4 linked regions of the Homo sapiens genome follow. The protein of the gene in region 1 interacts with the protein of each later gene in a pairwise test. Each region holds a gene or a part of one and is shown in the gene's direction. Other genes may lie near its edges.

Evidence for each region. Proteins that work in one complex are often made in the same cells at the same time.
Region 2: the proteins of TRIM42 (region 1) and LONRF1 interact in binary tests that used the Homo sapiens proteins (3 or more experiments, as listed by UniProt).
Region 3: the proteins of TRIM42 (region 1) and KRTAP2-4 interact in binary tests that used the Homo sapiens proteins (3 or more experiments, as listed by UniProt).
Region 4: the proteins of TRIM42 (region 1) and GLI1 interact in binary tests that used the Homo sapiens proteins (3 or more experiments, as listed by UniProt).

The regions. Positions count from the first base shown.
Region 1 is NC_000003.12:140,680,332-140,685,782, forward strand, and holds part of TRIM42 (tripartite motif-containing protein 42), read left to right. Parts: intron 1-2,130; coding exon 2,131-2,828; intron 2,829-5,451.
Region 2 is NC_000008.11:12,749,027-12,752,526, reverse strand, and holds part of LONRF1 (LON peptidase N-terminal domain and RING finger protein 1), read left to right. Parts: intron 1-3,500.
Region 3 is NC_000017.11:41,064,616-41,067,181, reverse strand, and holds KRTAP2-4 (keratin-associated protein 2-4), read left to right. Parts: upstream 1-1,302; 5' UTR 1,303-1,336; coding exon 1,337-1,723; 3' UTR 1,724-2,066; downstream 2,067-2,566.
Region 4 is NC_000012.12:57,466,285-57,469,784, forward strand, and holds part of GLI1 (zinc finger protein GLI1), read left to right. Parts: coding exon 1-105; intron 106-1,048; coding exon 1,049-1,213; intron 1,214-1,709; coding exon 1,710-1,940; intron 1,941-3,146; coding exon 3,147-3,414; intron 3,415-3,500. UniProt on the Homo sapiens protein: Acts as a transcriptional activator. Binds to the DNA consensus sequence 5'-GACCACCCA-3'. Regulates the transcription of specific genes during normal development.

The DNA.
Region 1 (5,451 bases):
CTTGTCCTGCCTCACTCTGGTCTCATTCATCCCTCTCCATCTTAATCTTTTTGTCACTTCCTTTTTCACCCCTAACACAGCTCCCTAGGCCATTAATACCTGTCTCTTAGCCCTGAGACCTCTTTCTCATCCTCCAACACCTCCCTCCCCCACTTCTTCTTTCTTTTTTGTGAAAATGCTAGTTCATGAGCTTCCTAGTAGAGATACCTCCTGTGAAGGCCTCATAACAGCCTCTCTTTATATTATACCTTGATTCTCCAGGCCTTACTTTTTTAAGCAAACTAAAGTCCATCCAGGCACTACATGGACAATTAACCTGTACCACCAGGTGATCCCTTCAGGACCCATGCAGGAATCTGGGAAAGCAGAGAGGAAATAGAGGTGAGAACATCGAGGCCAGCATGCCTAGAGCTCCCAGATCCCTAAGGGACAAATTTTCCAGGTGCCTTAATATACACAGGGAGCATTCTCTGTCACCACAGGGCCACTCCATTCCAATATACTTGGGAAGCACCTGTGACTGTCAGGACTCAGACATAGGCTCCTGGCCAAGGGAGCAGGGAAGACAGGGACACATAAGGAATGCAAGAAGACAAAAGCAAAAAGGAACACAGCCGCAATGTCGAGATTAGTATCCAAATATTATTATGCAAACAGAGGAGATAGCAATAGCAGCAAATTGTGTGCCTTTTACACCTCCATTCCCACAGCTATTTCATTTATTTTTATACACTGCATTTGCTGATTTTAAGTTCTTAGAACAGGTACTTGAATTTTACAAGTATGCTTTTACGCCATAGCTCTTACGATTAAATATATGAAATCAGCCTCAGGCATTAGACAAATGGAGAGCCTTAACACACATAAATGAAACAGTGGAAGCACATACTTTTCACAGACTTGGCCACTATTTTCCTATACTATGATTTCTCTCTACTGCAGACATTAGCTGGCTAGTAGCAAAGGGGTGTAATTATAGTGGCCACATTTATTGAATGCTTACTATGTACCAGCAGTTAAGCACTTACATGGATTACCTTTTAGACTTTATAAAAACCTCACAAAGCAAGTAGTACTGTGAGCTTTGACTTATAGTTGAGAAAACTGAACATGAGAGAGGTTTAAAAAAACATCTCAGAAGGTACAACTGTAAAGTGGTGCATTTTTTATCACATGCATTCTGCCTCTAAAGCCCAGATCCATTACCATTACCTATTGCTCTGGTTGGCAGATCACACAGGTTCTAGGCTTGGCTCAGGTACAGACTTGCTCTGTGTTCCATCTATTTACAATAAATAATGTCAATGTCCTCCAGGAAAAAAAAAACACTGAGAACACACCTGTAGTTGGACAAGATTGAATTTATTGACTCATTGCAACAAGTGAGAACATAAAGCATGGGAAAGTGTAAGGTACCTTGAAAAGTTATTACAGGATTTGGGCTCATGTTAGGTAAGGACACGGGAGTAAATCTATTGAATATCTTAATAAATCTTATCTAGAAGGTAGGAAGAACAGAGTGACCCAAAAGTTGTTAAAAAAAAAAAAATCAACTAGGTTTTTTGGTTAAAAAAAAAAAATCAACCAGGGTCAGGGGCCGTTGGATCATTTTTGTGATTTAGACAACGTTCTTGTCGGAGTCCAAACATTATTAAGTGGTCTTGTTTCTGCTTTGATCCATCAAAGTCACAGAGTGGCCTTGTCTCATATTGTGTTTTGATATTACCGATGTTCAACCGAACACCAAGGCCTAGCTGACAACGCCAGTCTCTGCTGCTTTTCCTTTGCTTAATAACAACAAGCAGTCTCAGCACACTGGCTGTGTACCACGGACTGCTCTTAGACTGTACAAGTATTAAACTCAATTTTAATCTTCTCAAGAAACTCTATGACATAGGTACTAATTTTATAACAAGGAAACAGGCCGAGAGGTTAACTGGCTTACCTGAGGTCACCCCGCTGAAAAACGGTGGAGACAGATTGAGAACGCAGGCACCTTAGCGCCCAGCTCAGGCTCCTCACCACCACACTAGACTGCCCCTCAGGAACCAAGAGTTCTTTCAGAGGTAGAGAAGCAGAGCAAGCTCTTGAGCCTGCCTCCTGAAACCCTGCCTTTGCTTCTCCTTTCAGCTCCAAGACTGCCCTGCGCACTGGGAGCAGCGATACCCAGGTGGATGAAGTAAAGTCAATACCAGCCAACAGTCACCTGGTGAACCACCTCAATTGCCCCATGTGCAGCCGGCTGCGCCTGCACTCATTCATGCTGCCCTGCAACCACAGCCTGTGCGAGAAGTGCCTGCGGCAGCTGCAGAAGCACGCCGAGGTCACCGAGAACTTCTTCATCCTCATCTGCCCAGTGTGCGACCGCTCGCACTGCATGCCCTACAGCAACAAGATGCAGCTGCCCGAGAACTACCTGCACGGGCGTCTCACCAAGCGCTACATGCAGGAGCACGGCTACCTCAAGTGGCGCTTTGACCGCTCCTCCGGGCCCATCCTCTGCCAGGTCTGCCGCAACAAGCGCATCGCTTACAAGCGCTGCATCACCTGCCGCCTCAACCTGTGCAACGACTGCCTCAAGGCCTTCCACTCGGATGTGGCCATGCAAGACCACGTCTTTGTGGACACCAGCGCCGAGGAACAGGACGAGAAGATCTGCATCCACCACCCATCCAGCCGCATCATCGAGTACTGCCGCAATGACAACAAATTGCTCTGCACCTTCTGCAAGTTCTCTTTCCACAATGGCCACGACACCATTAGCCTCATCGACGCCTGCTCCGAGAGGGCCGCCTCACTCTTCAGCGCCATCGCCAAGTTCAAAGCAGGTCCTCCCCTTTTCCACTCCTTCAGCCTAACTTCTAGTTCAGGAACACATGGGGAAGATGGCGTGGGGTAATCTGTTAAGTGAGTGCCTTAACAGATTCCACCTAGTGGAGCAATCAAGGCACCAGGAAACACTGTGCTACCCTGCAAGTCACTATCCTGGTGTCCGCTCCTGGCAACCACCACCAGCCACTTAACTTCCCCGTGCCTTGCTTTTCTCACCTATGAAACGGGAATAGTAGTGACCCCCTCACTGGGTTGCCATGAGGATTAAGTGAGTTCCTCTATGTAAAGCATGCAAAAAGTCATATGACAAGTGCATAAAGATTCTATAATCTTGATTATAATCTTCATGTCCTCAGGTCTCATTTTCTCCTTTGGAAAATGAAGACTTTGATCCTATAGTATACTGACGTTCTGTGACGTTCTAAGATGTTCTGTCACTGTTGGATCTCTTTGGTTTTCCTAAATATGCAGGGGGAGATAATTAAGTCAGTGCTGAGAATTATCTCAATGTTAAATTTCCCTCCATGAATTTTTTCCAAAACTTGCAGATGCCAAAGTAAATAAACTGGCAGCAAACATATAACAACAGGGACAACTCTTAACTAGCCAATAGCATTCTAGTCAACAGCTTATTTTTCCTCTGCATGCTTGTTCATGGTGATTTGGTTGTTTTATATTGTTACATATAATATTGCTTTAAGTGAAATAATATTTCAATGATGGTTTCAGTGATGGAAACAAGCATAAGAGTATTTCACAGGATTCAGCAAAGAGCCCATAATTTCTGGTTTCAGGGACAAAACCAAGTATAATAATATTTCACAGGATTCAACAAAGAGCCCCATAATTTCTGGGTATGTCTCTACCTGGTCAGACATGAGAATCCAAAAGATCCCTTTAGTGCCCTTTACCCCCAGGAATAGTTCTTTGTATAAAGGTCCACTTTACTCAGGCCTGTGGAGCACATTTTGTCTAATCTCAATAATGCTACAGTACAGGCATTAAAATGTCCTCCATGGATAAGACAACTGTGGTTCAAAAAAAAAATTAGGACAGGGAGCTAATAAGTGGCAGATGCAGTCTATTTGACTCCAGTGCCTATCATTAATTCCACAATATTCATTTGACAATCTACTTTGTGCTAAGCAGTGACCAGAATCTGAAGATGAAGAGATTGAAGGGGAGGGAAGGGGAACCACCACTACCATCCATGGTCTGTTTCCTTAAGGAGTGGCCTACAGTCAGTTACCAAAGTGCACCAGATCAACCCAGGCCTTTCTCTTTGTCAGATCTGTTAGTCTCCATCATTCAGATAGGCCTACACATTTGGGAGGGAGGCAGCTTTTCCTTGACCTGCACAGAAAGGTCCCATTGGATGTAAAGGTGGGTCAGAAACAGGCTTTGCTAATGACCACATCACCCCGGACCTCTCAGTAGCTTCAGGAATACCTTAATTTTTCTCAATGGCCACATACCTGGAAACCTTGCTTGTCAATTGACATTTATTTAATTTTGGAACCACCACCAGGGAAGACTTCATATTAAAGGAACCCTGCAGGAACCACATTACCAAGAAAATGGTAGAACTGTTGGTTCCAAAAGGGTTTTCTGAAGGTGGGACTCACTGCCTCCCTAGGCCAGGGCTTGGCTGGATTCTTTGGGTCCTCAGCATGGTGAAGGCACTGCCGCCTACAACCTACTGTGCCTTCCATCCCTCTGTAGAGAACCTCGTCCTTAATACAGGAGAAACTTAGGATAGTTTTCTGAGTCCAGGGCACCTAAAATTTGAGCAGACAACAAAGCTCAATTCAAGGTGGGGGGAAAATGCCTGTCCAAATTCCAGGAAACCCAGCAGTTGGAAAGGGAAAAAGGGATAATTGGTAAATTAGATATTAGCTGTAAGTAAAGAATTTAACCTTTCATCCTTGCTGAAGAAACAGACACACAAAAATTTTTTAACCAGGGTTCAAACTTGTTCGTGAGCATTTGATTCACTTTTCTGGGAGGTACCATAAATTGGCATTCTAAACAGATCTCCAGGTTATTCAAAAGCAAGTGATCTGGGAATACACATTGAGAAACTGGGGGACCTAGGGAGAAGATCCATTCTAGAAGCTTTACTAAAAACTGATGCCCCTGTCCCATCCACATAGAGGTGCAGGCTCAGCAAGATGGAATTTTAAAAAACTCCTCATGTGATTCTATGGTGCAGCCAAGGTCGAGAACCACTGAAATAAAGGGAGCTCAAAAGTTTAGGTCCCTGCCACTCAAAGTATGGTTCAAGGACCAGTAGCATTGGCATCACCTGAGAGCTTGTTAGAAATGCAGAATCTCAGGACCCACCCCAGGCCTAGTGCATCAGAATCTGCATCTTTATCATGATCCCAGGAGATTCTCTGGGTTCGATTCTAAACCTCACTGAAAACTGCCTCACCTGGCTTCCTGAGCCCCAACACAGGCCCATTGATTCAGAATCTTAGCAGATGAGTCCAAGAGAAGAGTTTTTTTTTAACACTCTCTCAGGTTATTCTGGTACTCAGAGAGGGCTGAGAGCCACAGCTGAAGCAATTAAGAACCTAGTTTGGAGCTAGACAAATAGAATTAGGGACAGAGCCTAGT
Region 2 (3,500 bases), on another chromosome or scaffold:
TCACTGCATTAGCTTATTTTTTCCTCATTTTTAGTTCTTTCAAGAATCATTAATTCCATGCTTGAAAATGTCTGAATGGCACTAATGAGGATAAGTTTTTTAATCTTTTGAATTCTTAATGTGAACTAACAGGAAAAAAATCTCAGAGCTAACAAATTAGAGTTGGTAAAGGGCCGATTTATAAGTGTCTCACAATTTATGGGTGTAAATCAAAATGTTAACTAGTACAGTCATAAGCTGTTTGTACAATCCTTAGGCTTTAACTTCTTTGGAATTGGCAAGCTAGGCATTTGACATGTATTTATATAACTGTACGGTTGTAGTTATTAATGATCTTGTCATTATTGTTGATAATGAAAAAAGATCTTCACTATAATTTCTTCGTATAATTCTTATAATGAAACAAGTAAATACTATTAACTAGAAAAAATCTAGTCTGCAGTTAGCCCACACACATCCAAACTTATCTCTGCCAGCAGCAAAAGAAAGCTTGAAAACCTTTGCCAAAATCAGAAGTTTCCCATTTAGATTACATAAGTTTCTGTTGAATTGAAATATATTTAGATAACATTTAAACCATTGATCTTTTGGTATTAACTCTCAGATGTTTCATAACTTTCTGTCTTTTTAGTATTCAGGGATATTATGTAAAGTTTTTCCTGCACTGAATCTCTGTGCTTGAGCCTACTGAAATGATCCCCCTAAGCCATGCTGCCTGCCTTTTGTGTTTAATGTTTTTTTACACTGACTTATCTCCTTCGTGTGTTCACCTCTCCCCCAGAGGAAGACAACAGAACAGTATAATTTACAGTTTGTACAGGTTAAAAAAAAAAAAAAAGGTTGTAAGGTGGGGGGGTGATATTTTGTTTTAAAATATTTGGGTAAGGAAAATTTTGTCTTTAATATTAATTCTGTAATGCTTGACCAGGCATGGTGGCTCAAACCTGTAATCCCAGCACTTTGGGAGACCGAGGCGGGCGGATCGCATGAGGCCAGGAGTTCGAGACCAGCCTGGCCAACATGGTGAAACCCCGTATCTACTAGAGATACAAAAAATTACCCAGGCGTGGTGGTGCATGCCTGTAGTTCCCGCTACTCCAGAGGCTGAGGCAGAATTGCTTGAACCCGGAAAGTGGAGGTTGCAGTTAGCTGAGACCACACCACTGCACTCCATCCAGCCTGGGCAACAGAGCAAGACTCAGTCTCAAAAAAAAAAAAAAAAAAAAAAAACATAAAAATAAAAATATAATCCTTGACTGTTACCCAGTATTTTTACATTATTTATATTAATATCATTTGATCTTCACAGAGAATTCTATGGAGTACTGTAATATTATCCTCAGAGGGAAACTGAGGCATCTATGGATAGACATGCAGTGTGGCTTAGTGATTAAAGCTCTGCATGCTGGAAGCTGACACCTGGGTTCCAATCCTGACGCAGCCCTCGCCTCTCTCCGACCTTGTGCACGTTGCCTAACCTATCTGTGTTTTGGTTTCCTTATCTGAAAAATGAGAATAGTCTCTACCTCATAGGGTGTTGTGAGAATCAAATGAGTCAAAACATGCTAAGTGCTTTAAATAGTGCCTGACACAGAGTAAATGCCCAGTAAATATTAATTCAATATTTTTAAAATGTAGAAGTGTGTTACGGCTAGAAGGGGATTTTGCTGAAAGTGGAATCTAAACCTTGCAATTTTACATCCTGTTCTGTTCTATCACTTGGTAGAGAGTAACAATTACATCCCGATTTTAGTTTACACATGTTAACTAGCAGTTTAGCATTCATCAATAAACTATAGATACTTAAAAGCTTTAGCTATCAGAAGATCAGTCAAATTATAGGTAAATACTGAATACATTTAAAGAAAATGTAGAGGGTTTTTATTATCTTTAGTAACTCAACTAGGTTAAAATGAAGAAATTTGAATTTAAACAATACAGTAGTTTCCCCTTATTTGTGGTTTCAGTTACCCACATGGTACAGTATGATAAAATATTTTGAGAGACCACTTTCATGTACGTTTTATCACAGCATATTGTTATATTGTTCTATTTTATCATCAGTTATTGTTGCTAATGTCTTACTACACCTAATTTATAAATTAAAGTTTATCACAGGTATGATAGTATATATAGGGCTTGGTACTATCTGAAGTTGCAGGCATCCGTGGGAGTCTTGGAACGTATCCCCCTTGGGTAAAGGGAGGCTCTTGCTAACTTATTTATGTCCTTACTTATTGTGCAGAGGACTTGAAACAGTAAACACTGATGTCTGTATGGTGATTATAGTTCACAATTATTTTCATTTCTATTATCGTAATTGATCCATACACAAACTCATGTGAGATAGGAGGGCAAGTATTAATATCCCTAATTCACAGATGTAAGAAAAGTTGCAAGAATTTTGGGTGACTTTCTTAAGGGAAGTAAGTGACCAAGTTAAAACTGAAAGCAGAACCCAAATATGTGCATATTGATTCAAAACACAAAGTTGATTTAAAAATTAGCACGCAAAACATAAATCTAAAATATTCTTACTATTCAGCAAATTTTTATTGAGTAGCTACTATATACCAGGCATTGTTTTAGGTGCTAGAAATATAAAAAAGGAGTAAAATAAAGTCCCTGTCCTTGTAGAGTTTGTATTTTTTGTTTCTTTTGTAATTGCAGCAAATTGAAAATCCCTAGAAAATGGGGTTTACTGCTTAATTGGCTTCTACTTAACCGAGACTATATCTCTAATTATTTTCTTTGATTCATAAGGTACTTTAAGGATTTTTTTTCTTAGTGCCTCAGGGTTACTAAAAAGATCAACTGTAATGGCTTTTGATATAAATGATAAAAAAACTGATTCAAGTGTCCCATTTCAAATGAATAATTTGTTTTTTAACTGTTTTTCATTCATCAAATGCAGAATTTACCAAAACTGAATTATCTTAGATTTCTAGTTATTTATATATTAACTTTTTGTTTATTCAGAATCATTTTTCTGTTTGTTGGAATATTTCTAAGAGCCTTGGAAAATCTCGAGTAAAATTTTAAATGAATTTGTATAGTGTTCTGCCTCTTTCCAAAGGTATTTCTCAAAATTGGAATTGTTTTATTATTGAAGTTGAATGACTTCAGGGAACTCTAAAATGCAAGATGGAAGCTTCTGTTTGGTTTTTTCTTTCCCTTTGGTAAGGTCTTTTGCTTCCCATCCCCTTGACCCACCTTTGTGCTGTCTGTTGTCCAGTCTGCTCTCCTGATCCCTAAAGATGTTTCTTATCTAGGCTACCATTTATGTGGGTAAAAGACAAGGTAGAAAATACTCTTCTGTATCTTGTATCAAGGGTTAATCTAATATCTTCATCACTTTGTTTTGAGATATTTTGGAATGTTATCAACAATTATTATAGATGGAGCATGTATGTCTTAGGTTTGGTGTTAACTGTTTAACATGCATTATCTTATTCAATCCTCACAGCAGTTATAAAATGTAGGTGTTTTAGAGGTAAGCA
Region 3 (2,566 bases), on another chromosome or scaffold:
ACCACTGGACCACCCTTGTATGTAAGTTCCACTAATAAACCCTGCATCATGTTAGCTTTCTCCAGGTCCCTTCTCTAGCTCTCAGACACATTGTCATACTTAGTGGAGTCAATGGGGGTCCAGGATGACAATGTGTCATCTGGGCAAAACATTTCCCTAATTCTCTTCCAGTACCACTTCTAACCTTGCTGCTGAAAGGAAAGTTCATTACTTATTTTTTTAAATCTGTGTTTAATATGTATAAATGTAAGAGGTTCAAATGCAGCATTGTTACATGGATATATTGCATAGTGGCATGAAGTCTGGGCTTCTACTTTAATATATGTTTTCTTTCCTGTCTAAAGACCATGGTTTACTGAATCCAATGAGCATAAAACTCATAGTAGAGGCTACTTACTGCAGACTGAGGAGACCTGGATCTCAGACCTCATATGGTGACCTCATTGTGTGACCTTGGTACACTCTCAGGACCTCAGCTGTAGAGTGAGGGCATAGGCCTACATATTCTCCGCAATCCCTTCCCGGACTCTACAGATGCAACGACTAATTCCAAACAAATTACAAATATAATAATTGCAATGGATCCTTGAAGAGGGTTTTACAATCAAGGTAGAAGTTGAGTTTGGATTGGAAGGATGAGGAGGGCATTCCAGGTGAATGATGACACATCAAAACCAAGGCAGGAAAGCCCAGGTCCTAGTCAGGGGAGAGTGACCACACCAGTGGCCAGGGATCTGCATTTCGTGTGGTCCCTGCTCATATGAAAAACCACAAGCCTATCTTTAAGTGAGTCATGGAAGGAGCTATCTGTGAAGCAGATGACTACTGGTCTGCACTAGGATGATGCAATTAACCTGCTACCATCATGCCCATGTGCATTAATAAGGCAAGTCACTGCTTGGGTGCCGGTGATGGGAGCCTTTGAAGACAAGGAAGAACATGCTAATTTTAGCGCCAAAGGGCAGAGCGATTAGACACTAATTTAGAAAACACATTCTTTTCTCTCTTATGGGTTAGGAATATTTCAAAGGAAAATTAATCAGAAGTGAATCCAATGTCTAAATTTAGTGAGGATAAACAATACAAGAAAATGAGCGAATATTTGTGGTGTATGTACATGAATATGTATGAGGTGAAGAGTGACCAAAATACCATTAGTCAATGCTAAATCTTCACTTAATTGGCCAGAAGATGCACAAGAAAATGATCATATGTTGAAGGGTCATCAGCTCCCAGCCAGGGTATATAAAGGGCCCAGAGGGGGAGGAGGACATTCACACCTGAGAACATCCAGCTCCTCTCAATAGCCCAACCCACACCAGCCTCAGACACCACCATGACCGGCTCCTGCTGCGGCTCCACCTTGTCCTCCCTGAGCTACGGGGGAGGCTGCTGCCAGCCCTGCTGCTGCCGCGACCCCTGCTGCTGCCGCCCCGTGACCTGCCAGACCACCGTGTGCCGCCCCGTGACCTGCGTGCCCCGCTGCACGCGCCCCATCTGCGAGCCCTGCCGCCGCCCGGTGTGCTGCGACCCCTGCTCCCTGCAGGAAGGCTGCTGCCGCCCCATCACCTGCTGCCCCTCGTCGTGCACGGCTGTGGTGTGCAGGCCCTGCTGCTGGGCCACCACCTGCTGCCAGCCTGTGTCTGTGCAGTCCCCCTGCTGCCGGCCCCCCTGCGGCCAGCCGACCCCTTGCAGCACCACCTGCAGGACCTCCTCCTGCTGAGACCCCAATGCCCCCACAGAGCAATACACTGAAGCCTAAACATCTATCTGGTGTTTTTAAAAAGTTAAAAGAAAAATAGATTTTTTTTCACAAGGTGACAATAGTGATTTTTACCATCTGGATACAGCCTGGTGTAAGCAGACGTCCATTACCACCCTCACCCACATTTTCAGGTGTCTACATCAGCCTTAGTCATTATGGATAGTAAATCGACCTTTAAGAATTCCTGGGGTGGACTTTGCAAACACATTCTACAACCTGATGGTTTTTACTGCTCAAACTGTCACCATCATCTTTTGCAATGTGTTGCTCACTGTTGTCAATAAACTAATTTTTCCTGGCATAGCAGACTGCCCTGCTCCCTGATTTGTTCGTTAGTGCATGTTTATTAGCGTACACAGATAAGCAAGATTTTGGAACCTGCACAAGGGAAACAAAGCTCAACCTAAGCAAAACCTTATCCATAGAAATCTCATCTATTCAGTCATTCAGGAATTGTTTATCAAGGGACCTCCAGTTGACAGGTGCTGCCTGATTAGTGATGAACAAGCTACATGCCTTGTATCCAAGAAGCTTATGGTCTAATGGAATAGACAAAAGGAAAGACAATGTTCATGAAGAGGGGTAGAAGTGGGAATAGCATATGCCAAGCCCAGAATGACCACTGGTAGTAAACTGACCAGCACAGCGCATCTCATCTTCTTACCACAGTTCCTAGAGTAGCATTTTTCAAAGTGTGGCCCATGCGTCATACACAATAGAATCTCTTGCAATTGCCTATTAAAATGCACATTCTTAGGCCCCAAACCAAACCTAATGAATCAAAATCTCTGGGAGTGGGGC
Region 4 (3,500 bases), on another chromosome or scaffold:
TGCCACTGGGGGGGCTGCTCCAGGGAGCTGAGGCCCTTCAAAGCCCAGTACATGCTGGTGGTTCACATGCGCAGACACACTGGCGAGAAGCCACACAAGTGCACGGTGAGGCACCAGTGTCCCAAGTCCAGGGTCTCTTCCTAAATCAGGGCTCTCCTTCAAGGTAGGGCCCAAGGCAGACTTTTGCTTTTATAAGTCCTTTCTTCCATAAACAAATATTAAAAATAATGTTTGTGTGACTGTGTTGGCATAAAGATGAATATGATGATATATATTAAAACACTCTTGGACCTAAAAGCTCATTTTTTTCCCCTTGATTTTAAAAGACATTAAAACAGGCCAGGCACGGTGGCTCACACCTGTAATCCCAGCACTTTGGGAGGCTGAGCCAGGCAGATCACAAGGTCAGGAGTTCGAGACCAGCTTGGCCAATATTGGTGAAACCCTGTCTCTACTAAAAAATATAAAAATTAGCTGGGCGTGGTGATGGGCGCCTGTAGTCCCTGCTACTTGGGAGGATGAGGCAGAAGAATCACTTGAACCAAGGAGGTGGAGGTTGCAGTGAGCTGAGATGGCGCCACTGCACTCCAGCCTGGGCGACAGAGCAAAACTCCGCCTCAAAAAAAAAATTTTTTTTAAAAAAGACATTAAAACATGTTCGTGGGCCTCTTAAAGTATTGTTGGCCTTCAGTACTGTGCCTACTACTCTGCCTAATGGATAAACCCTGCATCAAGGACAACAGCCCGTTCCCCCAAGATGACCCCATCTTGGGACAGCCTAAGATCCCCATGCAGAGAAATCTGCCCTGGCTTGGTCAGAAGATGCTCTAGCATCTTTATATTCCCAAAGGGAGAGTGCCTCCAACTGCTTCCCTTCTCCAAGTTCTTGCCTGCCCTTGTCCCCTAGTTTTGGGAATTCTCTCGAAGCCCCAGTGCCTTTCATCTTGAGTTATATTCTCTGATGTGTGTCCTGTTGGAGATTGAGGGTTCCTTCCATCTCCATGTCCTCTGTCTGAGAACTATCCTTTGACCCCTGCATGTCCCCCAGTTTGAAGGGTGCCGGAAGTCATACTCACGCCTCGAAAACCTGAAGACGCACCTGCGGTCACACACGGGTGAGAAGCCATACATGTGTGAGCACGAGGGCTGCAGTAAAGCCTTCAGCAATGCCAGTGACCGAGCCAAGCACCAGAATCGGACCCATTCCAATGAGGTGAATGCCCTAACTAAGCGACCCTCCCCTCTTGAGAAGCCACCTACCAGGGAGATTCCCCCATAAGAAATCCCTTAGCCCAGCACCCACTCCACAGAGGTGAGTCCCCCTCCCCACATAATTCGCCCAGAAAAGGCTTTTCTGAAACCCAGAATTTCCACTTAACCACTCCTCCTCCTACCTCTAACCTCTAACCAGCCAAAAGGCTAACCTAAAAGATTCCATCTAGAGGAGACCCCTGATCCCTCCAACCCCTGGATTTATGGGACCTCACAGCCCTGGGTTCACCCCCTCATCTTTCCCAGGCTGTCAGTTTTCCTAACCCTCCACTTAATCTCTGCATCTTTGACTCCCACCGGAGGCCTCCATCCTCCTTACTTCCTTTGGTGCTGTGTGCTCCTCCCCTGCCCCCTGTGTTGTCACCACTTTTTCCCATTTCTTCTGCATTCTTCCGCTTTGATCCGTTTGCCTTCTGTCTCCACTCTCCACTCAACAGAAGCCGTATGTATGTAAGCTCCCTGGCTGCACCAAACGCTATACAGATCCTAGCTCGCTGCGAAAACATGTCAAGACAGTGCATGGTCCTGACGCCCATGTGACCAAACGGCACCGTGGGGATGGCCCCCTGCCTCGGGCACCATCCATTTCTACAGTGGAGCCCAAGAGGGAGCGGGAAGGAGGTCCCATCAGGGAGGAAAGCAGACTGACTGTGCCAGAGGGTGCCATGGTGAGAGAGCCCAGGCAACCCTCACCTCCATACCCCAGCCCACCCTGTGGACATCTTTCTAGTTACTTCCCAACCCATCCATTCCCTCCTATAGAAGTCACTCTTCTGTGACCAGTCTGCCTGTCTCTTGTCTTAGTGTTGCTCTTTGGGCTTCCCCAAATCTAGAGGTTTTAGAATCTTTCTGTCTCACTCTCTCACTCTCTTTCTCTCTCTCCTTCCTTCCTTCTTTCCTTCTTTCCTTTCTTCCTTTCTTTCTTTCTCTCTCTCTCTCTTTCTCTCTTTCTTTCTGACAGAGTCTTGCTCTGTCGCCCAGGCTGGAGTGTAGTGGCATAATCATAGCTCACTGCAGCCTCAAACTTCTGGGCTCAAGTGATCACTACAGGCACACCCCATCATGCCTGGCTAATTTTTCTTCTTTTTAGAGATCGAGTCTTGCTATGTTGACCAGGCTGGTCTCAAACTCCTGGCCTTGAGCGATCCTCCCACCTCAGCTTCCCACAGTGCTGGGATGAGCCAATGCATCCAACCCAAACTCTTTCTTTTTTTTTCAGACGGAGTCTCGCTCTGTTGCCCAGGCTGGAGTGCAGTGGCATGATCTCGGCTCACTGCAACCTCCGCCTCCCAGGTTCACGCCATTCTGCCTCAGCCTCCTGAGTAGCTGGGACTACAGGCGCCTGCCACCACGCCGGGCTAATTTTTTTGTATTTTTAGTAGACATGGGGTTTCACTGTGTTAACCAGGGTGGTCTTGATCTCCTGACCTCGTGATCTGCCCACCTCGGCCTCCCAAAGTGCTGGGATTACAGGCGTGAGCCACTGCACCCGGCAACTCTTTCTTAAATAGCACTTAGTATATGTTCCAAGCCTTTTACATGTATAATTTCATGTACTCCTCACAGCAACTTCATGATAAAGGGACTCACTGTTCCCATTTTCAGTTGAAGAAACTCAGGCATAGAGAAATAGCCCAAGGTCATAGAACTAAGAGCAAGAATTTGAGTCCAGCCAGTCCGTGCTCCAGCCTAGGTTCTTCTCATCAAACGTCTCACATTCAGTTTGCTCCCCCATCTCTTACCTGCTTAGCCCTTTCTACACTTACAAGCTTCCTTGGAACCCCAGCAGTCACTGGGACACAGGCTTCAGCCACTCATCAAGTTGAAGGAGCTGTGGGGAAGGGTGTTGCCCTCAGACCTCATCTTCTCCACAGAAGCCACAGCCAAGCCCTGGGGCCCAGTCATCCTGCAGCAGTGACCACTCCCCGGCAGGGAGTGCAGCCAATACAGACAGTGGTGTGGAAATGACTGGCAATGCAGGGGGCAGCACTGAAGACCTCTCCAGCTTGGACGAGGGACCTTGCATTGCTGGCACTGGTCTGTCCACTCTTCGCCGCCTTGAGAACCTCAGGCTGGACCAGCTACATCAACTCCGGCCAATAGGGACCCGGGGTCTCAAACTGCCCAGCTTGTCCCACACCGGTGAGACCTGGGTGTGGGAGGTGTGGCTGGGGTGAGATCTGGACCTGCCCTGAGGTTGAGAGGAGGAAGTCACCCTTGAGGGCTGT